2 separate regions of the Homo sapiens genome follow, and region 1 is linked to region 2. Evidence: fine-mapped QTL for protein levels in blood plasma. A gene starts in region 2. The other region holds a variant in brackets. All regions are shown on one strand. Distances are from middle to middle.

Evidence for each region. A credible set is the group of variants that fine-mapping cannot tell apart. PIP is the posterior inclusion probability: the model's chance that the variant is causal. Protein levels are from antibody-based Olink assays in UK Biobank. Linkage for the fine-mapping came from a reference panel and not from the study's own genotypes, which makes the PIPs less certain.
Region 1: its variant is the best candidate, but not a certain one, in a credible set for the plasma level of the TMPRSS11D protein (UK Biobank, PIP 0.68).

Annotation. Positions count from the first base shown.
Region 1 is chr4:68,219,620-68,235,470 of GRCh38, forward strand. TMPRSS11B (transmembrane serine protease 11B) reads right to left here. Exons shown (of 10, transcript NM_182502.3): 5 at 14,844-15,004; 6 at 12,759-12,797; 7 at 11,584-11,761; 8 at 9,638-9,897; 9 at 9,123-9,265; 10 at 7,034-8,453. The coding sequence ends at 8,292. Among named protein-coding and RNA genes, the nearest start is that of TMPRSS11B, 18 kb to the right of the region's middle. The variant G/A (reference allele first, on the strand shown) is at 7,226.
Region 2 is chr4:67,876,033-67,891,883 of GRCh38, forward strand. TMPRSS11D (transmembrane serine protease 11D) reads right to left here and starts at 7,970. Exons shown (of 10, transcript NM_004262.3): 1 at 7,894-7,970. The coding sequence starts at 7,901.

The DNA of each region.
Region 1 (15,851 bases), 340 kb after region 2:
GGGAGGTAAGGGGAGGAGTAGGAGTTTAAGCAGGAGATAGAGGTGCTGCCAGACTAATTCTCCATGATCATTAAGATGCTTGTTCTTGAAGAATGCCATTATAGTACATTAAGGATAGGTAGGAGGACTAACAATTCAGAATTCACATTTTCTTTTAAAACAAAAATGCCAGATTAATTTACAACATAGTACCTCTCTGGCTCTTAAGTTACCTTCTCTGATGACGGCTTGGTTTGATTTTTTAAAATCTTCTCTTTTTTTAATCAAATGCCTGGGAAAGGTAATGTGGGAATGCTCTCTCATTACTCTGGTTAGTGATTTCTGTCTCATTGAATGTTGTCTTTAGCAGATGAGATAAATCTGACTTAAAGAGCATAAATCTAAATTTATAAAACCTGAGGTGGTTATTTAATGGATTCTTGTATAACATGTATTCCTATATTTAGTGAAAATAAAGTTTTGTTTACTCAACCATGAGTGTCTATTGTGACAAATTTTAAATGAAGATAATTAATTTTTAAGGCAACAACACAAGAAAGTATAATATATTGGCCGAGTGCAGTGGCTCACTCATGCCTGTGATCCCAGCACTTTGGGAAGCCGAGGCAGGTGGATCACCTGAGGTCAGGAGTTCGAGACCAGCCTGGCCAACATAGTGAAACCCTGTTTCTACTAAAAATACAAAATTAGCCGGGCATGGTGGCACGCACCAGTAATCCCAGCTACTCTAAAGGCTGAGACAGGAGAATCACTTGAACTTGGGAGGTGGAAGTTGCAGTGAGACGAGATTGCACCATTGCACTCCAGCCCGGTCAAAAAAAGCAAAGCTCCATCTCAAAAAATAAAATAAAGTAAAATAAAATAAAATTTAAAAATAAAGTTAATATAATTATTTAATTTTCACAATTAAGCATCATAATTATGCAGGACAACAACATATTCTAATATAATTGGATTATTTTGAAATCCATTATTCACTATGAACTGTAAGTCTGAAATGCCCTTAACACATATCATCATGAAATGTTTCAAAAACAGATTCTTCTGAAACTTTTTCCTGCATTGAAATTACGAAAAATAAAAACCAATAAGAAACTTTATTCACCACCATCAGTAGCAGGCAGTACTTAGGGCATTTAACAACACATCTGGCACAATGGCCAAAAGCTAGTTTGTAATGTTATGGCACAGAAATTGTGCTCCAGTTGCATCATCTAGTGAAGATTTCTTTCAAAAATATAAATGAGAAATAATTACATTCAGTGGTGTGGGGTTAGTGTCTAACAACGAGGTCTTGATACCAGTGGGTGGGAGCTAATTAAAAACGTTTGCCAATTTCCACAGTGTAAATACATCATGGTCAATTTCAAGCTATGTACATGACATCACTAACTATGAATTTAGGCAAGGATGAGCAGTAGCATTCTATTATATATCACCATCATATAGACACAACATATGCAAATAATCTCAAGACCATGAATACTAACAAAATGTAAAATAATGAAGACATAATGCATTTTGAGTATTTACTGCCTTTAATTTTTAACTATCGCTGTTTCACTCTGGCTCATATGATTCTTGAAGTTTTAACACTCAGTTCTTGTACATTGCTGCAAGCCAAATTCAGCACATCATTGCTTCACTTTAATTATTAAAATTTGCAAATACTTCACAAGTTTGAATTTTTGAAAGGACTTATAAAACTCTACACAGAGTACTCATATAAAGCTTTTATTTAAAAGTAAAGTATATGATAATTATACATTGTACACATGTATCAAAATAGCACATGTACTCCCAAAATATGTAGAAACAATTATATATCAATTAAAAATGTAAAAATAAGTAAAGAAAGCAAAGCAGCAAGAGAAAGAGTATAGGCAAGTATTAGGGGAGCCAAGAGATATAGAGGTGCAAATGCCCCATGGTCCTTATTCATACATACACACATTTTGTCTCCAGATTGAACCACCAAAATCAGTGTGATGAATCTCAACTTCATGAACACTCAAGGCAGAAGTTCTCAGTAGGATCTTGGGTCAGTAAAACAAAATGGCCCAGAGGTTGCTAGGAGAGTTTCAGACTTTAAACCTCACATAAATCTCACTGGACTTATTTTGGCCAAGAGCCAAAGCTAAGCAACTTTTTTCCCAAAGAAAAGCATTCCCAAAGAAAAGGATAGAGTTTTCCCAGTCCAGCTGTATATTAACTCTATCCTATGCAAAATCCAATAATGAAATTAACAAAAAATAATATTTCAAATATTTGTTACTCAGGATGATTCCACGTCCATGCTTTTGAAATGTAGAAGACTGAGAAAAGATGAACAATTCTATTTTGACATACTAATAGAAACTGCCTATTAGATTTTCACATGGAAATTTTAGAGATATGCCACTGAAGGTTCAGGGAGATGGCAAAACAGTGACTTCTAAAGCTACAATTAAAACACTTGGAAGTGGAGGCAGAGAGTTGGTATTGAAAGCCATTGAACTGGCATGTGTGGTGGCTCATGCTTGTAATCCCAGCACTTTGGGAAGCTGAGGTGGGTGGATCACCTGAGGTCAGGAGTTCAAGACCAGCCTAGCCAACATGGTGAAATCCTGTCTCTACAAGAAAAACAAAAAATTAGCCGGGCATAGTGGCAGGCACCTGTAATCCCAGCTACTCAGGAGGCTGAGGCACGAGAATTGCTTGAACCCAGGAGGCAGAGGTTGCAGTGAGCCAAGATCACACCATTGCATTCCAGCCTGGGCAACAAGAGTGAAACTCTGTCTCAAAAAGAAAAAAAGAAAGTCATCGAACTGGATAAGATCACTTAGGGTATGAGTATAAGTAGAGAAGAGGAGAGATATGAGCCTGAGCTCTGGGACAGTCCAACATCTAAAGTTGGGAAAGATGTGGAAGATCCAGCAGAAAAACTGAGAAGAAATTGCTAATGACATAGAAAGATTTCCATAAAAGATGTTTTTTTTTTTCTGGAAGCCAGATAAAGAAAGTGTTTCCATAAAAAATGATCAACAATGCTAAATGTTATTGATAGATTAATTAAAGGAAGAATTGAGAATTGAGCATTGGAATGGCAACACGAAACTCATTGGTGACCATGACTAATGCAGTTTTGGAGGAACATCTGAGTCAATATTTGGAGTGAGTTTGAGAGGGAATGAATGGAAAGGAGGTAAGGACAGCACTTTGAACTAGTTTCACAAAGAAACATAGCAGGAGAAGATGTAGGGTTAAAAAATAAGTATGTTTTTATCTGGAAGATATTGCAGAAGTTACTGTGTCTATGGAAATGATCCAGTATAGAGGGGAAAATTGATGACATAAACAGGGATGGGCAACAGTTATAGAAATAAAATCTTTGAGAAGGTGAGTACAGATGGGTTCTTAGCACAAGGGGAGAGTTTGGCCTTAGAGTGGTGTACAAACAGTTAATCCATTGTAAGAAAAAGGAGGATAGATGACAATAACAGCTAACATCTATCTTGCATTTGCTATGTGTTCTAAGTACATTACTTTTAACTCCTTGAATACTCCAAAACAACACCATGAAGTAGATATCATTCTTATCCCCATATCACATCAAAGAAACTGAGGCATAGTGATTTTAAATAATTTGCCCAAAGTCACCCATCTTGTACATGGCAAACCAGCGTTTGCACAAAGGCTGTTTAGCTCAAGTTCAGTTACCTATACTGCCCTTTGAGAAGCAAGTAGATTTGTAGATTTTTATGATAAGTGCCAGTAGAAACTCTCATCTGGTTCCTCTTGTTTTCTTGGTGAAACAATGAGCATGATCATCAGGTGAGTGTAAGGAGGAGAAAAAGACAGTGTTGGAGTTAAGAGCAGGAGAGAAGTGAATGAGTTATTTAGGAGAATAAGAGGGAGTTTTGGCTAAGGAAGTGCAAAGGGATTTTCAAAGAGCATTAAGGATATAACTGAGGTTCATGACTAAGATTTTAAAGAGTAGCCAGCATGATGTGTGTTTTTCTCCAGCTACAGTCAACAACTATGGTACATGCACTAAAAAGTTGAAGAGTTGGACTGAACCGTGTTTGTGGTTTTGCCGGGCTAGATAGTGAATGGGGAGATAGGGGCAGGGGCAGTGAGTGTAGATGTCATGACTGATCACAGTATTTAAGTCATAACAAATGGCAAATGACAAGCTCAATGAGGAGAACATGAAGATATTTTCAGGTATGCCAAAAAATAAAAATAAAAATTCCAGTCAATGGAAAACAGCTTCTAGCAGGCTTTGAGCCATTAGACCAATATCTAAGACCAAATTTTTATTTTTTATTTTTTTTTGAGATGGAATCTCGCTCTGGCTGGAGTGCAGTGACGCGATCTCGGCTCACTGCAAGCTCCGCCTCCGGGGTTCACGCCATTCTCCTGCCTCAGCCACCCGAGTAGCTGGGACTACAGGCGCCCGCCACCACACCTGGCTAATTTTTTGTATTTTTTAGGGGAGACGGGGTTTTCACTGTGTTAGCCAGGATGGTCTCGTTCTCCTGACATCGTGATCCGCCTGCCTTGGCCTCCCAAAGTGCTGGGGTTACAGGTGTGAGCCACCGCACCCTGCCTCTAAGACCAAATTTTTAAAAATAAACCTAAAAACATTTTTAGATACTTTTCATCACTTCGTCTCTTCTTTTCTGATTCATTTTCAGTGAAAACATTCTTTGAAAGCATTAATATGAAAGTCTGTGTTGCATAACAAAATACTGCCTTATGAGTTAAAAAAGAGTTCTCATACACTGATAAGTTGGAGATGTTTCTAGAGTAGACACAATCCTTGAACAAGGAAGTCACTTTCAAAAATTCCTTATTAAAGCCTAAACTGGTTGGTTAATTGGAGGCTTCACAAGAAGGAGGGAACAACCTTGTCAACTTTGTGCTATCATATATGGCATTAATTTTTTTTTCAATCTTTAAAAAAATGCCATTTTAATTAGCACTACATTCACAAAAAGATCTTGGCTTATGCTTCATAGTGCACAAGACTATATCCCTATCTTATATCACAAACAGTTTCATATTTCAAACACATAATTTTTTATGTTTCTCAAGAACATATGGACATTTATTAATAGCTGTGGTCCCGCTAGTCAGTAATGGTATGCTCTTTCTCAAATTCTTGCTCAATGGACTCCTTCAAAATGGACTTCAACTTCCCCTACTTAAAAACAGGAAGAAATAATTAAATTAGTCTAAGTTGTTCTTTGTTTTATTTTGTTTTGTTTTGTTTTGTTCTGCTTAGCTGGGGAATGGGGGGAGCGTAAAATATCTCCTTAATCATTCATCTCTGGTTTCTTTTCCATACCACTTATGAGTAGTAAAAGCATTTTATTTGAGAAAATCTTTTACTTTTTAATAAAATGGTGACTAATTTTGTAATGCAAATAATGATACTTTTGTCAATTTAGCATTTTAATTTTCATGCATTGTGATTAGTGTTGTTGGTTTTATTTCTCAAGGCAGACCTCTAATTCTTTGTGTGAACTTCTCAATGTGCTGTTAACATCAGAAGGCCAGGATGGCGCAGTCTATTACTACCAAAAAGAAAAAAAAACACTTACTTTTAGCTGATCCGTCACACATACAGTCCATATGAAAGTGAAGATTCTAAGTTGTTAAGACTGAAGTAAAGGCTACTATTGCACCCCATAAAGAATCCACCTTTGGCTGAATAATAACTGCTTTACCTTATGCAACTTGCCCCACCTGCTCCTTACCTCCACACCAAGCCTGGAGATTGGCCACTCATGCTATCATATCCCTCCTTGTTCAACCAGGAAGCCTCAATCTTGAGAAATCTTCACGCTTCATTTCTTTCTCATGGACCCCTTAGTCTCACAAATTCTCTTCCTCCACCAATCTCCCATCCTCCTCCAAATTCCTGTCCACCCTTTCCTTCCAATCACTTTCCTCTTTCTTCCATATTGGGGTTATTACTCATTCAGTTCCATTTGTTTTCCCTCTGGAAGAAGCAAGGGACAGACTGTGATTCAACTCATGATGTCGGGGATAAATTAAATGCTTGTAAACATCTGACTTCTGAATTAACTATCTATAAGACAAGGAAATCATTATACAGCCTGCAATACCTTTGACCTCTTAGTAATATTAAACTTTGTTCTACTTTGGGTTGCACTATAAAAGGATGTCTTCTGTTATCCTACCAAGGCATATTCCTAGCCCAAGGAAAAGGATGAATATGTGTTCATTTCTTACTAGGACAGCTGCAGTAGCTTTCTAACCAGTCTGCCTGCATTCTGTGCTCTTCACCCCCACTCCAGCCCATTCTCTTCATCAAAGTTATGTAATCTTTTCAAAGTGCATATTAGATTATCTCACTCCCTTTGCTTGGAAAACTCCTGGGCCTCCCATTGCAGTTAGAATGAAAATTCAAGGTCTTTACCATGGCTTACCAAGCGGTACTTGACTTGGCCCCCATCTACCTCCTCCATCTTCTCCCCTACCATCTCTCATTTATCCATGGGGTTTCAATCACATTGGCCTTCTTTCTGCTGCACATATCCACCTCACTTTTCTCTCTCTCTCTGGATCTCATACTTGTTCCCTTTGGATATCTTTTCTTTCATATGTTTTCCATGTTTTGGCTTTTCATCCTTTAGGTACAGCTCAAATGGCTACCCCCTCAGAGATGTCATTCAGACTTCCCAATCTAAATTATAGCTTATCTGCTCCATCATTTTCTATCACATTACTTTTTATTTCCTTTATAACATTTATCGTAATCCAAAATTATCTTATTTATGTGTTTACTGCCTATCTTTATTCACTAAATGTGGTATCCTTGAAGGAAGACATTGTATCTATACCTGACATTTCCTGAAACACACTAGGGACTCAATAAATACATGTGGCTGGCCTGAAACAGAAGTGAGGAGAGAAAGACACCATCTTGTCACAGATGGTTATAGATTTGCTTGATGTCAATATGCATATCATTTGAGCCATACTTTATAATAAAGAATAAAAGAGTAGCTCCACAAACAAATGAAGAAATGAGTACTTTTTTAGTTTATTTTAATGCCTTTAAGTTTTTGGTGACTTTTACATTTGGAAAATTACATAAGGTAAATTATTTGTAGAGATTACAAAGTTAGCCATCCATATGATTGCACTTTTACTATAAGGAGATGCCACACAGTTCTCTGCCCTTGATGACCTCATATTATTTTTGCTGCAA[G/A]AGAAAGCAAACAAATGACAAAAGGTGAATATGAAGACAATGGAAAATGTTATATAAATAATTGCCACTCAAAAGTCATTCTTTAATTCCTGACAAATTTTGGATGTCAACTCAATGAGGACAAATTTGTGTAAGGATAAATTTGTCAACTTATCACAGATGATGGAGAGTGACTTTAACCAAATCATTTCTCTTCTCTGGTCTTCAGTTTCTTGATCTGTAAATTGAAAGACTCAGTGTAGCTGGAGCTCTGATACTCCTTCTTCACTGCAAGATTGCATGATTTTGTGAGGTACATGAATCATTTCACATATAAGTTAAAAAGTAATGTACACTTTCGCACTTATTCCAGTTAATAAAATGAAATTATAATTGATATAATAAAAAGTAACTCATTTGATAAATCCCCTATATATGTTCTCATAGTTTCAAAATTTATATTTTATTTTCTTTTGATTCTGGAAAACAAATTAAGGTCAATTCTGAATATAATGGTAAAATGAATCACAACTCAGCTATTAAGAAAAATTATATATTAGCCTTCTTTATTTTCTTCTCTCCTTTTTTTTTTTTTTTTTTTGAGACAGGGTCTCACTCTGTTGCCCAGGCTGGAGTGCAGTGGTGGCGCAATCACAAATCACCACAGCCTCAACCTGCTGGGCTCAAGCAATCCTCCCACCTCAGCCTCCTGAATAGCTGGGACTATAGGTGCACGCCACCATGCCTAGCTAATTTTTGTATTTTTTGAACACGGATTTAGCCATGTTTCCCAGGCTGCCCTCAAACTCCTGGGCTCAAGCAATCCGCCTATCTCGGCCTCTCAAAGTGCTAGGATTACAGGCATGAGCCACTACACCTGGCCTCTTCCTATCTCTTACATTAATTTAAAAGATTAATAAATGCATGGACAGTGTTTTAGATATAATAAAATATTAATAAAGACATTTATATTTTTATATATAATAAAATGATTAGTTTACCAACAATCAAAATAAAAAGATCCCAAAGCCACAGATAAGGATAGCCTACAGTGGTCTTTATGTTCCTTTGTATAATTCCTTTTTTTTCAGAGTCCAGTCTTGGATGTAATCCAATTGCGATAAGAAGTCACTCGAGTATAGACACCTGGCTTATTCTTTTTACCACATCCATCACCCCAGCTTACTATTCCAACAAGATGCCAGATATTTCTGGAATCAGGGTAAGCTAGTGGTCCACCAGAATCATTCTAGAAGAAGAAAAGAAAAAAATGTTTCTTGTCTTAACAAAAAATTTCCTTTTACCTCTCCTGTGGAGTTATCTGTACCTCCTGGGCACTGAAACCAATTCACTCTCTTTGGGCTTAGAACTCTGAAACCCTTAGGACTTTTTTTTAAAACACAAGACAGCTACAAACCAGAATATATGGCCTAAAACTGCCAAATGTTGACTTGAGCAAACCAGAGTTTGACTTATATAATGAGTGCAGCTTGAATATGGAGAAGGTGACTTAGCTGCTTGCACTGAGCTTAAGTCTCTATGATGAAGCCTCTGAGGAACAAGTGGCATAGGCATGTGCCCAGACTCCTGATGCATCTCTGGATAAAGAGAAGACAACATTCTAGGTCTGCAGGTTGCCCAGAAAATAGGACAAAATTCATCTTGTAAACTTCTTCTAAGTGTTATTCTTTGTATGAATTCCCAGATTGAAAACTTCGTGAGGGCAGGATTGTGTTCACCTCCACGTCCCTAGCATGTAGGCTAGTGTCTGGTACATAAATGGAATTAATACATTTTTAGTGTATTGAAATACAAAGCTACTATGTCAGTATTATTAACACAAAAAAAATTTTATGTGGATAAAAACTTCCATTTGATTAACTGGGAGAAAACAACTGGATAATGTAACTAGACATACCTGACATGCATCAGCTTCTCCTGACATAAATCCAGCACATAACATTGTATCAGTCACAAAGCCAGAGTATGCATATGAGGCATTGCAAATTTTGTTGTCAATAATCTTCAAAAAGTCTTCTTGAAGTATCACTGGAAATGAACCTAAAAGCAATAAGTGCTGCATATTATGCAGATCTTAGACTTTGCTGGGACAAAGAATATCTACCTATAGCATAAAGCAGACTCTCTTGGTCACCAAGAGTCAGGCCAGTCCCAGGTTAGATTAGTCTCTTTCAGGTGTTTGTAATAGTTGGCTGCCTAACACATAATTTCAATTTTTCCAATTCCCATTCCCAGAGATATTTTAGGAAGTGAAGACAATTTGACATCATGCTTTTTGTCCCACCACTTGGTTTTCTTTTCAGTATATTTACTGATTGATTAATTGCATGAGGGGATGATTGATTGATTGATTGATTGATTGATTAAATAGTTATTCCCATGCAGCTATTATGATTTTACAAAAAAACTTACCATTCATATAAAGTGTTCCCCAACCTGTAACTACAACATTGTCATTTTCTGAGAGCTTCATTTTGGCTTCAGGAAGACAAATCTTACGAATGTACTCTGTAAAAGAAACTTCTTCAGCAAGCTGCACAAGGGCAATATCATCATGAAGCCCAGGACTGCTATAATTTTCATGAAAAATAATGTTTTGGACTTTCCGTGTCATATATGGTTTATTTACTACAATTCCAAAGTTGACAGTCCAATCTTTTGAATTATTTTTCCTAGAGGACACAATGTAATTAGAATACACTCAGTTGCTGGGTCACAACACTGTTCTTAGTGGTGATTATCTCATAATTTTAAGGCATGAGGTTCCCAAACAAAACTATAAACCACTGAAATTCTATTTTGAAAACTATCTTTGACATGGAGCTGTTGTAAATGTTGCAGTCACTTAAAAATAATGCTAAGGACTCAGATTTGTCAGCTTTCTGAAGATCTTTTCAAGTAGAGTCACTGATGTTTTCCCCTGCTTATTCAGTTCCATCCAGTTTCTGAACATTTAATTTGGTCAGGAATCACATGAGCGTCCTCAATTCCGTAAGTGGATGGGGTCCAGGATTAGTCTTATTGCCACATACCCTTGGTTTCAATAGCTACTTTTTTTACCCTCACCCTTCTACCACCCTCAAGTAGGCCCTAATGTCTATTGTTCCCCTCCTTGTATCCATATGTACTCAGTGTTTAGCTCCCACTTATAAGCAAGAAGATGTGGTATTTAGTTTTCTGTTCCAGCATTAATTCATTTAGTTTGGATAATAGCCTGCAACTGCATCCATGTTCCTGCAAAGGCCATGATTTTATTCTTTTTTATGACTGGATAGTATTCCATGGTGTATATGACCCATATTTTCTTTATCCAGTTCACCGTTGCTGGGCATCTAGGTTGATTTCATGTTTTTGCTATTGTGAGCTGTGGTGTACATACAAGTGCATATGGCTTTTTGGTAGAACAATTTATCTTCCTTTGGATATACTCAATTTTTGGGTCCAGATTAAATTTTACGTCAGATGGATATGCTGTCTTTCTTCAAATTTCCATCGTACTTACTATCTTTGTAATACGTGTCATGTTTACAATACTATACAGCCTCGTACTTTTAATATATGACATTTAAATTTTCTCAACTAGATTATAAACTTCTGGATGGCAAGACAAGGAAGCACCTAGTAACTGGAGTCAGACACACTTGAATTCACATTCAGTTTCTATTATTTAAGAACTAGGCTGGGCATGGTGGCTCGCACCTGTAATCCCAGCACTTTGGGAGGCTGAGGCAGGCGGATCACTTAAGGTCAGGAGTTCGAGACCAGCCTGACTAACATGGTAAAACCCCGTCTCTACTAAAAATACAAGAATTAGCTGGACATAGTGGTGCGTGCCTGTAATCCCAGCTACTCAGGAGGCTGAGACAGGAGAATCGCTTAAACCCAGGAGGCAGAGTTTGCAGTGAGCTGAGATCGCACCATTGCACTCCAACCTGGGCAACAGATTGAGACTCCATCTCAAAAAAAAAAAAAAAGAGCTGAGTGATCTTAGCCAAGTTTTGTCACCTTTCCTGAGTGAGACTTAGTTTCCTCATCTTCAAATGGTTTTAACTATACCTTCCATACAGAATTGAATGTTGTGATTAAATGAAATGATGTTAAGTAAAGCACTTAATGTCAGGCCAAGGTACCTATTTGGAAAATGTTAATTAATACTTCTATTTGCTTTTCTCTCCTTTCTCTAATTTAAATGCATTTCCTTTCCTGCTCTTTAATTACGCAGGTGATTGTAAATGTTCTATGTGATTGTAAATTTCATATGGCCTTGGTGAACCTTGACACATTAAGTTAACCCCTACAAACTATCCAAAATAGTTTTGCACCTAGCATCCTTCATTTAGTCAAATTTTCAAACTTACTTAGCAAAGCAGTGAGCTGCAGATAATAGCCACCTGCTGCTGATCAGAGAGGCTCCACAGTAGTGACGGCCTTTCCATTGCATGCTGGCCTGCCATGGCCATGCCCCCTCCAGGGAGCTTTTTCCATTCACAATTTTGTTGCCAGTTATGATACTGTTGGCTACTTGTCTCCCACAACCTAGAGAAAGGATTTATTTACACGAGAGCAGGTATCTTTGATTACGCATTATAAAAAAATATATCATTAAAAATTACTTGAAACCTTTCAGTGATTATTCAACTTCTCCTAATTGATGACGTTTCTTTCCTACAAGATACTCCTGTGATGTTTCTGTATTCTATCTTGGTTTGAGTGGTTCTTACTTATCCTCTTTTCCAGTCTCAAGCATCTTTCAACCACTATTTTTTGTTGTGTCTATGTGTTATAACTCTTGTCTCTCTAAGCAGATTCTTGAAGGAGGAGCTTTGCCTCATTGGTGTCTACATCTTGCATAGTATATGCACTGCTGTCTGTAAGACACCATGTGAACAAAAGATACTCCATAAATATCCATGGAGTGAATGAATGCATAAATGTATCTTGTGGAAAACATGATACTCTAAAGAGAATTTATTTAAAAGATGTAACAGGACAGCGATATGCTCCTATAGGCCCAGCTACTTGGGAGGCTGAGGCAGGAGGACTGCTTGAGCCCAAGAGTTCCAGGCTATAGTCCACTGTAATTGCACCTGTGAATTGCACTCCAGCCCACACAACATAGCAACATCCCACCTCTAAAGCAAAAAATAATAATAATTTTTAAGATGCAGAACTGTTTTTATCTTTAATAAATATATTTTATATAGCCTGGTTTTATATTTTCTTCTTATCCTAAATTGTCATTTCCTTCAATCTTTCTCATTTTAACATATTCAAATATGATATTTTTCACTCACAGTTTTATTATTTGGAATCAATTTTCATTTAACTTTTTATATATTTTTTAATAAATGTTAAAATTAATAGACCAGTGTTTTTCAAAGAGAAATTCTAAGTCAATATCTGGTATATCTAGTAATTCGGAAAGCGTGTTATGGGATTTCCACATGACATATTTCAAGTATTTTTAATAGAAAAATAATGAGAAAATACCTGTGAGTCCATCAAATTTATAATTAAAAGGTCCTTAACTTACAGTTGTTGGTAAGCATTTCAGAAGCAGCCTTGCTGATTTCTGAAAGTGAAAAACAAAACAAAATATAAAATTGAGCAAATATCACCAAGCAATTGACTTCAACCTAAGAACATAAATGCTAACTTTCCTAACCCAATATTGTCCAACATTTAACTATTTGGAGTAGTTCAGGTATTTTCAGCCCCTCTGACTCTTATTTGTTACATTATAACCATCTCTCCATATCTCTACTAGGTAGCCTAGAAAAAGAGAAAAGGGAATAAAAAACAAAAATCAGTTTTATGATTATTGAAGTAAAATATTCAGTGCTGTAAGAAGCTGGCACCCTTACAAATTGTTTTTTTATTATACTTTAAGTTTCAGGGTACATGTGCACAACGTGCAGGTTTGTGACATATGTATACACGTGCCATGTTGGTGTGCTGCACCCATTAACTCGTCATTTAACATTAGGTATATCTTCTAATGCTGTCCCTCCCCCCTCCCCCTTACAAATACTTTTAAGAGATCATGATAGAGATTTCTTTCCCATGATAATTCTCTTTACTCTGAAATGCTCAGAATTATATATATTTTAAGGAAAAATGTCCCAATTAAAATTATACTTCACTGAGCCCATCCTGCTCTTTAGGGAAATCTCCTTACTAAGAATGAATCATGAAATTTTGAGAACTTAAATTTAAATCTTTTTCCTATTGGTAAAAGACTTTAGAGAGAAGGAGAAGAGGAGGAAACTAAAGAAACACTAGAAAATGCTGACTATACTCTATGGGACACAGAAAGAGAGTAAACAACGTATCCCTCTTTCCCAAAAGCTACTCACAGAAAAATTTTATTGCTCCCTTGAAAAGTTCTACCTCAGGTTCCCTTCTTATTAGTGGTTCACTGGTAACGGGGTCTTTATTGTGTGGCAAAAGAGCGGTAACTGGCAGATGTTGCTGGCCTTTCAAGCCCTCGAAGACCCTAGGATTAATTGTCTGGCTGGAAGAACCATGAAACTGGACTCTGAAATCATATGCTTATCACCTAGCTGGACTTTTAACAATCCAAGTGACAGTTTCAAGACCTTTGCAAAACCTTCACAATCTTTACAAACTTCACTTTCTGTAAGGAGGCAAAATCTTATCATTTTTCTGTGAGAAGCTTTTGGGAAAGAGGGATAGATTGTTTACTCTCTTTCTGTGTCCCATAGAGTATACTCAGCATTTTCTAGTGTTTCTTTAGTTTCCTCCTCTTCTCCTTCCCTCTAAAGTCTTTTACCAATAGGAAAAAGATTTAAATTTAAGTTCTCAAAATTTCATGATTCCCTTGTTTTCTAGGGAATTTTCCAGACAATTTTTTTCTTTAAAAGTGGTATTACTCCAGTTTTTTCACAAAAATCAATAAGAACTCCCATCCCTAACATTGTTCTTAACTCCTGCAGTCTCCTTACTGAAAGACCAAGAAAGCCCTAAATCTGCTTTCTGTCATGAGATCCTGACAAAAGCAAGGAGTAGAAAAGAAAGATACTTTGCCTGGGCTCGGTGGCTCATGCCTGTAATCCCAGCACTTTGGGAGGCCGAGGTGGGCAGATCACAAGGTCGGGAGTTCAAGACCAGTGTGACTAACATGGTAAAACCCTGTCTCTACTAAAAATACAAAAAAATTAGCCAGGTGTGGTGGCGGATGCTTGTAGTCCCAGGCTGAGGCAGGAGAACTGCTTGAACCTGGGAGGCAGAGGTTTCAGTGAGCCGAGATCACGCCACTGCACTCCAGCCTGGGCAACAGAGCAAGACTCCATCTCAAAAAAAAAAACAAGAAGATAATTCAATTAGAACCCTTCACCCCCTTTCCCATGCATAATAGCCAAACCCTTCCAAACTTACATCCATGCTTGCAGTGTAACCCTCATTCCTATCATTCTTCAGACAATGATTCCATGGCACTGCCCTTTCCACTACCAAGTCATTGCTAGGGGTGCCAGAGTTAGGTACGCATATTTTTTTCCCGAATTACTAAAACTCTTAGTTCACTTTTTAGTACTTTTTAAAAAAATAATCCAGAAAAAACCTATGTAATAGAAAATAATGGAAATAAGTCAAATACCCATGAGTTTAATGGAAGCAGGAACTGCATTCCAGGATGCCATGTTGTTTTTCAACATCTGATGTAATTTAGCCTTGATTTTAGTCCTCATGCTAACTCCTTCTGCTGGAGGAAACTTGAATTTCAGCTGTAACTGCACATTTGAACCATTGGCATTAGGCCTAGAAACAACAGAAATTTTCTAATGTACTGTTTCTTGATCTTTTAGAGGTTTTGTGAACACATTAAATTTCACACATTTTAATTATCACATTTTCTTTACATATATTAAAGAAAAATATACATATACTATCTAAGCATGTATAAAATTCAAAGATATCTAAAAAAACTTCTAGTACGTCTAGTTCAGATGTGCTATTCATGGAAGAAAATATAGACCACAAACTAAAATCAGAATATTTCAAACACTATGGGAAATGGAATACTGGCCAAGAAATGATTGGCATGAAGTCTTACTATAATACAATAAAAACCAGTGCTCTCATAAAGAATTTTTCTAATAACTTCATTTTATAGAAAGAGATAAATGAGAAAATAAAGATAGGGCAGGGAAGCATTCAAAAGACAATTTCCAGCATGTATTTAGAAGCCAGTGCTAACCTTCTTCCTACGGTTTTTTTATACATAACCAGTCTGCCCCAACAGATCTATACAATGAAAAAGCTCAGAAAGAGAATTCTAAAGCATGAAGGACATCTTGATTATATATTCAGTACATTCTTTTGATTAATCAGGAAAAGAGATTAATTCATTTTGGAAGACTTTCAAACCAAAGCCATATCAATCAGAATTGTTAAAATATCCATAATTTCACTTTCAAATAATTATGATCAATTCTAGGGTCTTTGAAGGTTTTTGTTTGTCTGTAGGTAAGTAGGTTGGTTAGGTCAGCTGGATTTTTTGTTTGTTTTGTTTTGAGAGTTCAGAATTCCCCAGAACTGATATTAACAATTACCAAATTACAAGTGGGCTCTACCCTCATTACTCTTCCCCCATACACTATACCCT
Region 2 (15,851 bases):
CCTGAACAAATGTACTTGTTTACTCTCTTTCTTCTCTTTTTATATAAAGATTATTATGAAACACTAGTCCTGTCCAGGGGCCTGTGTTTTTAATTACTACACAGGCAATGCAGAAAGGTAATATATTACAATAGTAATAACCATGAGTTTTATAATCAGACAGATCCATGTGATCACTGGGAAGTAACAAAACCTCTCTGAACCTTAGTTTCCTCATTCATAAAATGGAGATAGTCACATGCCTCAGAGGGTTTTGAAGATTAAATGAGATACTGTTTATAAAGTACTTAGATTCTGTTGTATGTTCAATAAATTGTAAATTTGGTAGTCTTTCTATATGTAGAACCTAACTTTGGCTAAAAATAATATATATTTTTAACATACAATAGAATATATACATTTTATTTTTATTTTAAAATATTTAATTGACAAATACAATTTTACATATTCAAGGTGTACGACATGATATATTTTTATAATAACATTTTATAAGATTGACAGCATTTTGTGGAATCATAGCATGTTAGCAATGGAAGAGAGTTTCAAAAATATCCACTCTGACTTTGCTATTATGCAGATAAATAAAGTGATCTGCAGTGAGATTAAGTGGTACCACAGAGGGGCCAGCATTTAGACCTCTTGACTTTTTTGTCTGTGCTTTTTTTCTGAAGCCTTATTGTTTTTTGCAACCCAAGACATGGTGGGTGCTCTATAGATACAGTGCTTATTGAATGAATGTTGGAAAAACTAATAGCTATTGAATACTTATTGCAATATTCTGCCAAGCACTTAGGACATTTTTTTAATTGCCAAATAATTGTCCTTCCCTTGAAGTACTCATGTCTTACTGAAGAAGGATATTACATAGCCCCCTTAGCAGCATTTCCCACCCTTGAATATCCCTTTTTATTGAAACACTCTTTTTCTTTTGATTTCCATAATTCCATACTCTTTTTCTTTCTGACCCCATCTGTTCTCTAAATATCTTTTGGGTGTGGGTAGGTGACGGAGGAAACAAGACTGGCTGCTGAGGTGTGGTAACTTGAAACGGGCGATAGGTATGAGGATTCATTCTATTGTGCTCTGTACTTCGTTATATCTTTAAAATATTCTATAATTAAAAAAATTTTTTTTTAAATCTTTTGCTAATTGCATCTCCTCTAGTCAACCTAAGTGTCTGGTGTTGCTCCATGCTCTGTCCTGGGTGTTCTCCTTTCTCTAGTTGATCTCATTCAGTCAGTTTCAATTACCATCTAAGCCAATGGTTCTCAAATTTTTGTGTGCGTAAGAATTACTTGAAGACTTGGAAAAGTGCAAATTCCTGTACTGAATCCAGTACCCACCCAGACTATTTCAGTAGGTCTGGTCTTGCATCTCAGAGTTCTGCATTTTATACAAGTAGCCTGGGGGATTCAGAGAGAGATAAACCAAAAATTACGCCTGAGAAACATTGATCTGTACGTGATTTTCAGACTACAATATCCAGCTGTATCTTTCACATATCTCTATTCAGTGCTTAGAATTCAGCATTTGCAAAGCTGAATTGATCATCTTCTTTCTGATTCTCACAACCTTCCTTTGCCCCGTCAAATAGGCCCTTTTCTGGCATTTTCTTTCTCAGTAAATGATGCCAAAATTCACCAAGTTACTCATGTGAAAAACCTGAAAATTATACTTGACACCTCTCTCATCCCTCACATCCAGTTGAATGTCAAATCTGGTTCTTTCGACTTCTTAGACATATCTCAAGTTGTATTGCAAGTCCCACCACTTTATCCAAGCCACGTTTATCCTTTTCCTGAAATACTGAACTAGGCTCCAACTAGTCTCCCTTCATCAAAAGATATCTCCTTTCTCCACAGAGATTGTTCTCTATATGAAGCTAGAATCATCTTTTAAAAACCATCATGGCACATGTATACCTATGTAACAAACCTGCACATTCTGCACATGTACCCCAGAACTTAAAGTATAATAAAAAATGAAAACGGGGTAATTTATAAAGAAAAAAATTCTAATGTAGTAACATCTCTGCCCTGCTATGTCTTTAACAATTTTGTGTTTGAGGATGTAATGCCAGATTCTTAATATAGTCTTCAAAAACCAGCATGATCTGTTTCTTGCCTGCCTTTAAGTTTCTGCTTAAACAATGCTTCCTCAGAGAAGTCTTCCATGAGCTTCTAGACTGGTTTAGTTTTCACTATTATAATACTTATTTCAGTGTCATCGTATTAAACAAATCATAATGAAATTACATATTTCCATGTTAATCACTGGAACAGTTGTCTTTTGGATTGGAAGGTTTGTAGTTTTCAGTAAAGACTACCTTTTGCTCTACTGAGATTTCCACAGAGTAAATGTTTTCAGTGATGGTTGTTTCCATTTATCTTGATTACCCAAAGTCCTTAAACTTTTCTTCATAGCACCACAACTATAATTAGATAGGTATTTGTCTAATGTATTTTAGTGTCTGTCTTCCCAGCAAGCACCATGAGAAAAAGGTCTGGGCCTTTTTGTTCCAGTGCTGTATATCTAGCACCTAACAGCTCTTCACTCAAATTAGACACTCAATGAATGAATGAATGAATAAAGTATAATATAAGGAGTAATTGGCCAGGCACAGTGGCTCACACCTGTAATCCCAGCACTTTGGGAGGCCGAGGTGGGCAGATCATGAGGTCAGGAGTTTGAGACCAGCCTGACCAACATGGTGAAACCCCGTCTCTACTAAAAATACAAAAATTGGCTGGGCGTGGTGGCACGTGCCTGTAATTCCAGCTACACTCAGGAGGCTAAGGCAGGAGAATCACTTGAACCCAGGAGGCAGAGGTCGCAGTGAGCCGAGATTGCACCACTGCACTCCAGCCTTGGGGAGAGAGGGAGACTCTGTCTCAAAAAACATATATGGAGTAATTATATATATCATAAAAGATGTATAAGTAGAAATAAAGCACTAGGATATTTAGGATTCAAATGGTTTATTTTGCCATATGATATTAAAAGTTGCTTTGAAGTAAGAGCATTTTGTGTTTTCCAGTGAATGACAGTGGACTTAAGGGACATTAGGGACATTCCCTAATGTCCTAGGGAATCATTAGCTTATGTAATATTGCAAACCATGAGACTGGTGGAATCACACAGAATGTAAGAAGAAGAAAAACATTTAAGGCTGGGCGCAGTGGCTCACGCCTGTAATCCCAACACTTTGGGAGGCTGAGGCTGGCGGATCACGAGGTCAGGAGATCGAGACCATCCTGGCTAACACAGTGAAACCCCATCTCTACTAAAAATACAAAAAATTAGCCGGGCGCAGTGGTAGGCGCCTGTAGACCCAGCTACTCGGCAGGCTGAAGAAGGAGAATGGCATGAACCCGGGAGGCAGAGCTTGCAGATAAGGCCACTGCACTCCAGCCTGGGCGACAGAGCGAGACTCCTTCTCAAAAAAAAAAAAAAAAAAGAAAAGCACTTAAACTCTGGGGACAGGAAAATTAGTAGAATCTAGTAACAGAAACTGAGAAAGTTTGACCCATGGGATAAGCAAAAAACCAGGAAAGAATGGTGTTTTGGAAGCTTTGTGAAGATCACGTTTCAAGAAAAGAATGGTCTCTGGTGGAGTGATTATGTAAACTCACTGAGATCTGACCACTGGATTTTGCAATTTGGAGCAAGACAAGAGCTATTTCAGAGCTGTGAAGATCAGAAACTATTTGCACTGGGAAAAGGGAGGATAGATTAAAGATAAAAATGCATATACCATGTGACTCGGAAAATCTATTTCTAGGAACATATCCAAGAGAAACTCTTGCATGTTTGTACCATTGGACCCGTGTAAGACTATTCAGTGCTACATTATCTGTAATGGCAATATACTAGAAAAGTCGATATTTAAGTTATGGGTCAGGCTTACAAAGAAATATTATACAGCTATGAACATGAATAAGCTATGCACACTTTATTGTATATAACATATATAATATTGATCTCATTTATATGACTTTCAAAGGCAGGTAGAATTAAACCATAAGTTTTTTAGGAATATATCCGTGAATGGTGAAACCATGAAGAAAATGAAAGAAATTAAGATACCATGCCACGTAACAGTTACATTGTGAAAGGTGGGGAAAGGTCAGTTCGTAGACAGGAGGTGCCCATGGGGTCTTCTAAGATACTGGTGATGCTATTTTTATTAATAGATGTCTCGTACCAAGAGGTTCACTTTTTAAAATTAGACTTTAAATGTGATGTGTTTAATAATAAAAAATTAAAAAGCAAAAGGAGAGAATGGAGGAAGAAAATAAAAATAGAGGCAATAGGTTTAGACAGATCTTTAGAATAGTTTTGCTTTTAAGAGCAGGAGATGAGAAATGACACAATAGCTGGACAGGAGATATGGGTCAAGGGAGGGATTTTTTTTTAATTGGGGATAGTATGGCGTGTCTTTATGCTGACAAATATTCAGTAGAGAAGGAAACATTACATCTTAATTTATTCTTGCACTATTAAATTCAGGTAGATATCTTGGCTAAGAAGTAAACTTGTCAGAATAAAAACTTGTCTAGTTTAGGAAAAATATACTCGGTGGCTTTTATTTATTTATAATTTTTAATCTTTTTTTTTGAGACAGGTTTTTGCTCTGTCACCCCAGCTGGAGTGCAGTGGCATGATCATAGCTCACTGCAACACTGAACTTCTGGATCCAAGTGATCCTCCTACCTCGGCCTTCAGGGAATACAGGGAATACTTGTACCACCATGCCCATCAATGACTTATTGCTCCACTGTCTTGAGCCCTGAGTGCATATATTATTTTATTAATCATTGATACGCTTGTTCAAACCTCTGGCAAATGGATATTGTAAATATTCCATAGAATCTGCTTTTTCTTTCTGCTGAATGACTCATCAGTATAAACTTTTCCAAAGTCCATTTTTATTTACAACTATCTTAGGCAGTTATCCAATTAATGACTTTAGATTTGGGATGGTGCTTTTGTTTTACATGTCATGAGCATATACTAAAGCTAGAGAAGGAATACTCCCCAAAACTGTGAAATCATGCCAAGTCTTCTTTGCTCAAAAGAATGGGATCCTTCAAATGGGAGCAATACCTTTTAAGAAATTGGATTGGATAACTGTAGGTTCCCTTACAGCAGTAAATATTGAATGAATCCCTTCCTTATGACTTATTTTAGGGGTGCCAGTCATAGCAATTTGGGAGTTGCAGTAGTGTGTTAAGTAAGCAATGAATTACTGAGAAAATAGATTGGGAGTGCCTTCTGGAAGACAAGTTGGCAGTGGCATGGGATAATTTGCTAGAAAATATATAATCCCAGATGACTGACTGCAGCTGATCTTCCTGTATGCAGGCCCGTCCCACACCATCATTAGAAAAACATTTGGGCCAAATGCAGCAGCTGTTTTAGCATGTGGCTCAAGATTTTATAGGCAACAACTTGTACTAGAAATGCACTATTTTGGGCTTCATGACTGTAAATACAAATTGGTGTCCACCTGCCTAATTTCTATGAAGAAATATGTTCTTTGCCTAATGATTTACAATTTTAAGCATGTTTTTCTGAGTTCCTATAGCAGTTCAAAAACCAGGATTGAAACAACAGGCAGGATTTGGAATGCGTTTTTGACAGCGATGGCTCGTCCCCCCGCCAACTTTTGTCTCAGGTTCTTTTGGACTGTTGGGAGGCAGGGCATCTGATTGTCTTTGGCATGTCTCTGCAGTCAGTTAATCATGTCTTGAGCACAGACAAAAGGGAAGAAAATGGAAACAAGATTTGTTTGGTAGGAGGAGTCCTGCTAAGACTTGTCTGTCCCTGAGCTGAGATATGCTCATTTACCTTAAATCTTTCCATAAACTACATTCCAAATTCCAGTTTATAAATCTTTATCCTATTTCCCAAACCTCATCTCACACGTTTTCTGTAATCTGGTGGGCACAGATATTCCCTTGGTGAACCTGAGAAAATCTAGAGTGACCAAGGATCTGAAATGAGTAACACAGCTGTTCAGGTTCCTGGGCCCTACGGTAGGATTTCCTTCTTCAGACAAGGGAAGAAGGTAGATAAAGAAAGGAGCATTTCATCTTGCAGCAGCATGGAAGAGAGCTGGGAGTTTAATTTTTTATAAAAAAAGCAATCAAACCATCCAAGGCAGCCAATTTTCAACCAAAAGTATTTCAGAATTACCTGAAGATTTATCTAAAATTATGCCAAAATTACCTACAATTACCTAAAAAAAGTATATTGTACAATTTAATTTTCCTTCTGTTATTTGATATGAATACCTAGCTGCTATTTATTAGTAGTAGATACAGGCTATTAAAGAGATAAAATATTCCAAAAAGTGTGATCCTTAGAAACCAAAATTCCACAGAAGAGTTATTTGTAATTGGCAAGGTTGGCTCTGATTGAGTGTCAAATTTCCTGTACAATGATGGATCAACTTAGAAATTTGATTGATTCAAAGCCTTCTGAAATTGTACAACTCTTTCAGGATTTGTATCATTTACATGTCTTCTTTTATTATTTTCCATTGAATGATGTTTTGATATACACTTGACTGCTTATAAGGGCAATATTTTAAAATCAGAGTAATTTCTTTAAAATTAAAATATTTCAGCAAAATACATTTTAAAATGCACTATATTACCCAAATAATATTACACTTATAGATGGTTTAAGAACAATAAAAAATATAATTCATAAACTCACTGCTTTAGTATAACAAACCTGATTAATGTTCTATGTTCTTTATTAGACTTTCTCCCATGTATAGCTTTACAAAGTAGTAGTTGATGAGTAAATACAATTTTGTGATTTGTTTTTTTCACATAAAATAAGAACAAACTCAGTATGTAAATTACTTCATAGGTTTTTAAGCTACTTTAATACATTTCTTGTATCTATTACATGAATATGAAATGATTTTATTTCTTCTATCATTGGAAGCTTAGACAGCTATCCACTTTTCACTCATATATATATATTCAAGTGCATATAACTGTATATATATTTTTATTACTTAAAATGGTTTGACTTTTGATTGAATTTTCCAATGTTCAGGAGATTTAAAATAAATTCAGCTGCACTTATTATAGCTAACACATTGTTCATGCTTTTGTTGATCCTTTCAGCATGACTTATCAGTATCATGTTTTCCTGTAGTCATAGAAAAATAATATGCATAATATATACACTTAAGTGCACACATAAACATACCAAGTTACATAATTATTTCATTGTTTTGAGATGTTAACGTGTGACTTGATTATCTCACAACTTTTTTCTTTCTTTATGTGAAAGTATAGGAAAATACTTATTCATTAACTAAAAAGAAAACCAGAGAGAGATTATTTTCTCTTAAATGTTAGCAAGAACTTTCTTGAAAATAATTCTACAACTATATAAAAAGTAGAAAAATACCGTCTTTACTTTCTAAAAGTGTACTTTAGGATTTATGGCATATTTATTTAATAGCTAGCAATAAAACTGTAATGGAAGTCAAAACACAGAATCCTCGAAAAGTTCCAAACAACACAAGAATTGTTTACTGATTGCAATTTTAAAATCCACACACCACTTTTCGAAATGTTGCACATGAGAAACAAAACCACTTCCTTATTTAAAGATATGTTGTCATAACGCTAAGCTAAGTATTTTTGTGGTTGTTTTATAAAAAATTCAGTTAAGCAACTATGTACCTTATGAAAATAATATCAAGCATATTATCTAAACAATATCTAAGAGTTTCGATGAAGTTTTCAGAGAAGTAACTAGAAGATTGCTAGACACAGTCAAAATTTGCTAAGCTTCTTTATATTTTTCCCATACTGTAAGATATAGTAAAACTTTTAAAGCTACAAAGACAAAAACAGGACTTACCTATACATTTTAATCCTTAATGAAGAGGTTCTTTTTTCTGCCTACTCAACTGCTTTGAGATTCCCACTCAAATGAATGACTCTCATGTATTACGTGTGATCTATAGTTGAGGACAAAGGAGGAAATCTCATGTTAATTAAAATCTAACTTGTTAAACAAGTTTGAGGGAATCAACAAACCAATAGTATGACTTGTGGAAGATAATTGGAAATAGACAGGGAATTTCACAAATTAGTAAGAAATTTATTTATTCTGGTAAATTGAGATTAAACACAATTACAATTGACAGGTATTTTGTGAAAGCCTGTGACTACTTCACAACTGTAGAGTCACTTTTAGTTCAAGAGGATTTGACACTTATTTTGCTCATGTTATCATATTGTTATACACCTCATTCCTCAACACAGCCAGCCAAGATCCATCAGAACATACTTTCCGTACATTAATGGGCACTACCTCTGAATTCCCTCATCTGTATGATTAAATGCAGTTTTTCTCATAATATATGAAACAGAGCATAATTGAGTAGATGCACAAAGTAAGACAAGCAAACAGAATAGTTGGAACTAAAATCCACTTTGTTTTTTTCCAAATATGATCATTTGAAAAAGCTATTCTAACACACTACTACTAGAAGAGGAGCAGACAGAAGAAGACAGTATGAGTGTGTAGGGTGTTAGGGTAAGGATGGAGAGCTCAAGAAAACAGGCAAGACTAGCAGGGAGGGGAAAAAGGGCATTCCTGTCTAACATTGCAAAGAAGCAGGATATAAATTTGGAAGGTTATACTGGGGTTACTTTGTGAGAACTAATGAATGCTAAAGAATTGGAACTTGTAATAGAATTATTACAATATTATTAGTAGTACAATATGAATTCTAGTCTTAGCTTTTTCACCAACTAATTGTGTAGCTTAAGGGAAAAAATTTACTTATTTCTCCATAAGTCACATGTATCTACTAAGAAAAGTGGAAGCTGAATCAGGAGGTCTTAGAGGACTCTCAATTATAAAATTCTATGACTTCATCTTGTAAAGCACTGACAACTAATGGTTAAATTTACTCCAATACTGCAACTTCAGATGTGTTCAGTTACTTGACTTTTTCTATATAATGTGCAAATCAAACAACAGAGACAGGAATAAGTGGTTACTTATATGTTTTTTCCCAAATATATTTGGGAAATATATTTTTTACATACAGTATCTCATGCCTGACATTCTGCCATTGATTTTTTAGCAATAAATAAATAACTATAATAAGATTTAAAAGTTTAAAAAATAAAGTTACCTAAACAAACCATTTTTAAATTTTACATGTTAACTTCAAGTACCTTTAAATATAGTTATATCATGGTATATAATTTTGTATTATGCTTTTTATACTTAATATTATTTCACAAATATATCGCTATTACTAATTTTTATTTTTAGTAGCTATATATTTATAACTTTGTATTTTTATATAATTTAAAACACAAATATGGTACCAAGATTCATTAATTATTAGCAGTTTTAATGGTTGCATTTTAAAAGGTAAATCACATTACATTGAATGGACTTATCATAAAGCACCAAAGTTATTTTCTAATGTGAAGTATTTAGACATTTTCTATTTTTTTATTGTAGATGATTCTTTGAATGACCACCTTCACAAACATAGTTTTTCTTTGTCATCCTACAGTTGAATTTTTCTTCAGAATAAACTGAAGAGGCTTATTGAGCCAAGTGATTTAAATATTTTAATGGCTTATAAAATTATACTTTTGTTTTAATAATTTTTACTAGGATTTAAAGTGTTATTTTCTGTTTTTTGCTTACAGAAATTTTCTCTAATTATGCATGCTCTTTCTTGTATGTCTTTATTTCCTGGAATACTCAGCAGCAAAGGCCTTTTTACCACGTAGGTACTTACTCATCATATGTTGTTTAGATGTCTCATAATTAACGTATTAGTGCAGATCCCAGTGCCCTATTACTATTCACAACAGAACGTGGGGATGAGTCGGGGGAAAGGCATGGGGAAAATTGAATTCAGTCTGAAAGTGACTTCCCGCATGATGAGCTCAACGCAGAAAGGGAGGTGGGGCAGGAAATTATGGTTTGTGAGGCAAAGGAATTGTTCATAACAGGGACCAGTTTAAAGATGTTGACTCTTCATCTTTAGATCCTCAGGGAGTGGCAGGATAGGCCTTGACCTATTCTCTTTTTAAGAGATTGCATGAATGAGAAATGTAGAATCACGTTATACAAAAAATATAAGAGTCCTCTGCCTTCTGGTTACAGGCTGATTTTATTCTTCTGGTTGAACAGTCACAAAACCAAGGCAGCTAGACTGAGAACGAATGACAGGAACAGTTTTCAGGGACATAGCAGAGATCATTTATATTTCTGGAAGATGAACTATGCAATGTAAGAACTATTAAGATTGGTTCTTTTGCCTGCTGATGGAGAGAGAGTGTGGTTAAGAGACCCATGAAATCTTAAACTCTGGACATATTTCCCTGCAAATGTGTATTAACACACTTCGTTTAGAAGGAAGTATGAATCATTCAATGTAACCGTCATAACAATATTAGCAGAAAAAAACAACCAAAAAGCAGATGACCTGAGAAGGTGTGGGCCAGTAGTGTTTTTCTGAATTTGAAGTTTGTTTAGTCGTCAAGTCCAGGAAAGCACAGTCATATGGCTATGGTAGACAATATATTCGTCATGACCTCCCTCACAGAGTTACTGTAAAAATAGAAAAAAAAAAAAAAGATAATGGAGGTGCTCACCATATGAAAGCTATAAATGTTGTTTAAATGCAAGTATTTATATTTGTTATAAATGTAAATTTTAAAATTGGGTAATAATTGGATTTTGCAAGTGTGGCTAAATATAATTTTGTGGCTTATGACATGCAGGTAGTTGGAGGCAAAGGTACAAGTACATTCTATCATTTTTCAAAGGCATTTGTCTATTCAGAAGGCATGATGTAGTAGAAACAGTATTCTCCTTGGAGTTAGAGTACACTTTAAGTAAAATCTTGACTCTTCTCTTTACTACCCAGCAAGGTCAGGAAAATTATTTATCTCTGTAAGCCTGAGAGTTTTTTTAACATGTAAAAATTGAGTTAAAATACCATTCTCATAGAGTTGCAAAAACTACATTTAGTCAAATCAAATCAAATGAACTAATAAATGTAAAGCACTTGTCATGTTCAGTAGTTCGTAGAGTACTTGTTCCCAAGGCAGTGTGTGTGTGTGTGTGTGTGTTTGTGTGTGTGTGTGTAGGGGAGAGCTCATACAATTTGAAACTGGTCCTGGATGTTTCCAAAATACTGCCCCCACCCCCGCCCCGCTTAGATTGGCATGTTCTTTTGCTTCTACAAATTGGTCTTATTCCTAAAGCATTCATACAAACATGGTTTAAGAAATACAACACTCATTACAACCTGTGATGGCTTTCATGTTGACAGTTATTTTCTTATGTTTTCTACAAGTAATTTTTTTTTACCTGCACTTAACCATAGGAGGCCAAAGAAACATCTTGACTAGAGGCATTCTTTAATCTTGTTAAAGAAAGAAGTGTGGTTACTGTAGCCTTGTAGTATAGTTTGAAGTCAGGTAGTGTGATGCCTCCAGCTTTGTTCTTTTGGCTTAGGATTGACTTGGCGATGCGGGCTCTTTTTTGGTTCCATATGAACTTTAAAGTAGTTTTTTCCAATTCTGTGAAGAAAGTCATTGGTAGCTTGATGGGGATGGCATTGAATCTGTAAATTACCTTGGGCAGTATGGCCATTTTCACGATATTGATTCTTCCTACCCATGAGCATGGAATGTTCTTCCATTTGTTTGTGTCCTCTTTTATTTCCTTGAGCAGTGGTTTGTAGTTCTCCTTGAAGAGGTCCTTTATGTCCCTTGTAAGTTGGATTCCTAAGTATTTTATTCTCTTTGAAGCAATTGTGAATGGGAGTTCACTCATGATTTGGCTCTCTGTTTGTCTGTTGTTGGTGTATAAGAATGCTTGTGATTTTTGTACATTGATTTTGTATCCTGAGACTTTGCTGAAGTTGCTTATCAGCTTAAGGAGATTTTGGGCTGAGACAATGCATGGTACTGGTACCAAAACAGAGATATAGATCAATGGAACAGAACAGAGCCCTCAGAAATAATGCCGCATATCTACAACTATCTGATCTTTGACAAACCTGAGAAAAACAAGCAATGGGGAAAGGATTCCCTATTTAATAAATGGTGCTGGGAAAACTGGCTAGCCATATGTAGAAAGCTGAAACTGGATCCCTTCCTTACACCTTATACAAAAATCAATTCAAGATGGATTAAAGATTTAAACGTTAGACCTAAAACCATAAAAACCCTAGAAGAAAACCTAGGCATTACCATTCAGGACATAGGCGTGGGCAAGGACTTCATGTCCAAAACACCAAAAGCAATGGCAACAAAAGCCAAAATTGACAAATGGGATCTAATTAAACTAAAGAGCTTCTGCACAGCAAAAGAAACTACCATCAGAGTGAACAGGCAACCTACAACATGGGAGAAAATTTTCGCAACCTACTCATCTGACAAAGGGCTAATATCCAGAATCTACAATGAACTCAAACAAATTTACAAGAAAAAAACAAACAACCCCATCAAAAAGTGGGCGAAGGACATGAACAGACACTTCTCAAAAGAAGACATTTATGCAGCCAAAAGACACATGAAAAAATGCTCATCATCACTGGCCATCAGAGAAATGCAAATCAAAACCACTATGAGATATCATCTCACACCAGTTAGAATGGCAATCATTAAAAAGTCAGGAAAAAACAGGTGCTGGAGAGGATGTGGAGAAATAGGAACACTTTTACACTGTTGGTGGGACTGTAAACTAGTTCAACCATTGTGGAAGTCAGTGTGGCGATTCCTCAGGGATCTAGAACTAGAAATACCATTTGACCCAGCCATCCCATTACTGGGTATATACCCAAAGGACTATAAATCATGCTGCTATAAAGACACATGCACACGTATGTTTATTGCGGCATTATTCACAATAGCAAAGACTTGGAACCAACCCAAATGTCCAACAATGATAGACTGGATTAAGAAAATGTGGCACATATACACCATGGAATACTATGCAGCCATAAAAAATGATGAGTTCATGTCCTTTGTAGGGACATGGATGAAATTGGAAACCATCATTCTCAGTAAACTATCGCAAGAACAAAAAACCAGACACCGCATATTCTCACGCATAGGTGGGAATTGAACAATGAGATCACATGGACACAGGAAGGGGAATATCACACTCTGGGGACTGTGGTGGGGTCGGGGGAGGGGGGAGGGATAGCATTGGGAGATATACCTAATGCTAGATGACACGTTAGTGGGTGCAGCGCACCAGCATGGCACATGTATACATATGTAACTAACCTGCACAATGTGCACATGTACCCTAAAACTTAAAGTATAATAAAAAAAAAACATTAAAAAAAAAAGAAATGAAAAAAAAAAATAAAATAAGAAAGAAGTGTGTATCCTTTACCCCTCTCCTAAGTTCTCTGCATCAGTCCCCTTTGAGCTGCATAGAGTTGTTTTCTTATATGATGAGTAATTTTCACTTTCCTGCATGCATTCACAAATTTTACTCTTGTAATTTTCCTCCACAATGAGAAAAGCAATCAGAGCACATAAATATAATACATTTAGTATGCAACATCATACATTATTTCACCTACTGGAGGGTCTGGCTGATAAACTCTGTTATTAAAGAGATACTACTATGTATTAAAATAGATACTACATAGTATCTATTTTAAGAATTATTACATTATAAATTTATGACTATTGGTCTTAGCTGGCCCTTCAATACTGCCTAGCAATACAGCTAGGTTTCCCTGGTCAATGTCAAGCATAGGGTTTATTAAAACCATTTCAAATCTTTCTACTCTTCCCCAGTATGAATTTTCCATTCCTTATTCACTGCACTTGCTTTCAACAGATGACTTACCTTTCTACTATTGGAAAAACAAAAGAGAAGCCTTCAGATGGACACTCCCTCCACTTCCTGCTATCATGTCTACAGATCTGTACCCATCTGCCCATATTCTTCCTGTTTTAGCAGAAGAGGTTTTCTCATCCCTTGGGAGCCTAATCTTTTCATTGTGCTCTGTATTCACGTCTTCTTCTTTCGTTTTTCTAAACCTGTTTCTCCAGTATTCCCTATTTCCACAAGTCCACTCCCATTCACCCAGTTTTGAATCCCAGAAACCTAACAAACTAAGGTGTCATCCTTGACTGTATCTCTTTTCTTGGTGCCCTATATACATAAATATTTATTGAACCAATTTCTTTCCCTCTCATCCTCACTGCCACCACATGACTCCAGGCCACTGTAATCATTAGCTTGATTACTGTCACAGCCTTCTGATTAGCCCTTCTGCCTCTAATCCTTTTCCCACTCTGGTTTACTCAGCTGCAAGAATGATGATTACAAATTGAATTATGTTACTATTCTTTTAAAAACTCTTCAATAGCTTCCCGTACACTTAAGATAGAATCTGTTCTCCTTAACATGGGTGGCAACGCTCTGTAGTATCTGGCCCTTGCCCACCTTTCATGCTTATTCCCACCATACCTCTGATACTCTACACTCTATCCATTGAATTTCTTTTAGTTACTTTAATATGCTGTCTCTCTATCCCTTCCAGTTCTGTTCCTTTAGCTTGGATTATCTTTTCCTACCTCTTTCAATAATTTTTTTTCTTAGTTCCGAAATCAGAATGATCACTAAGGCCTACTTGTAGGCTTTTTCTCTTTGGGTAGGTTGGTTCCTCTGCAGTGTGATCCAACATCAGTTTACTTCTCCTCTTATACTCATTACAACACTCAGTATACTTTTTTATTTTATTTTATTTTGAGACAGGGTCTCACTCCGTTGCCTATGCAGGAGTGCATTGGCATGATTGTGTCTCACTGTAGCCTTGAACTCCTGGGCTCAAGCAATCTTCCCACCTTGGCCTCCCTAGTAGCTGGGACTACAGGTGTGCACAACCATGCTCAGCTAATATTTTAATTTTTGGTAGAGATGGGGTCTTGCTATATTGCCTAAGTTGGTCTTAAACTTTTGGCCTCAAGCAATCCTCCTGCCTTGGCCTCCCAAAGTGCTGGGATTATAGAAGTGAGCCACTGTGCCTGGCCTCAGCACACTTTTTTGAAATTTGTCTACACAGTAGACAATAGAGTCCACAAAAGAAAGGATTGCTATGTTCTCAGAGCCTGTCATCCCTATGTGGCATGGGGTTAATCATTCATTTAATAATTTAAATAATTTATATAAATTACTCAAATAATTTATTTGAATAATTTTTGAATTATTCAGTGAGTAAATAAAACGTCACTGCTTTCTGCATACTGCAACTGTGTTTCAGCTGTTACAAAATTCACTCTTATAGCAGACATGGAGATATCCTTCAGATCCTTCTTCAAGATAAAGCTTGGTGCTTAACTGCAAAGAGTATGAGTATCTGTCTTTTAACTGTAGATTTGTTTTTTATTTTGGTATGGTGAGGCTAAGCAATCAGGAGAAGATTGTCAATGAAAAGACAGTTTGTTACTCACAATTCCCAAGAGGAGGGTGCACACCATGCCACACAGTGAAGCACCAGGGTCACTCAGAAGGAAAGGGGTGAAAAAGGTACTATAAGGAAGAGCCTTTATCATTGTTTCTGTGGTAAGGAACAGGTGGGATAAGGTAAGCAGGCTTAGGATTGGCTAGTTTGAATAATTTCAGGGGCTCTCAGGTGTAGGGGCTGTCATTAGTTGCATGATACCTGGCCCTGGAGTAATTAGGGCAAGGCCCTAATAGTGGCTTGGAGTATAAGGGCTCCATAAGGCAGGTGGTAAGGGTTGGCTTGCATGTGACAGGCTAGTCCTAAGCAGTCATTTACTATCTTTAGGAATTAGTTA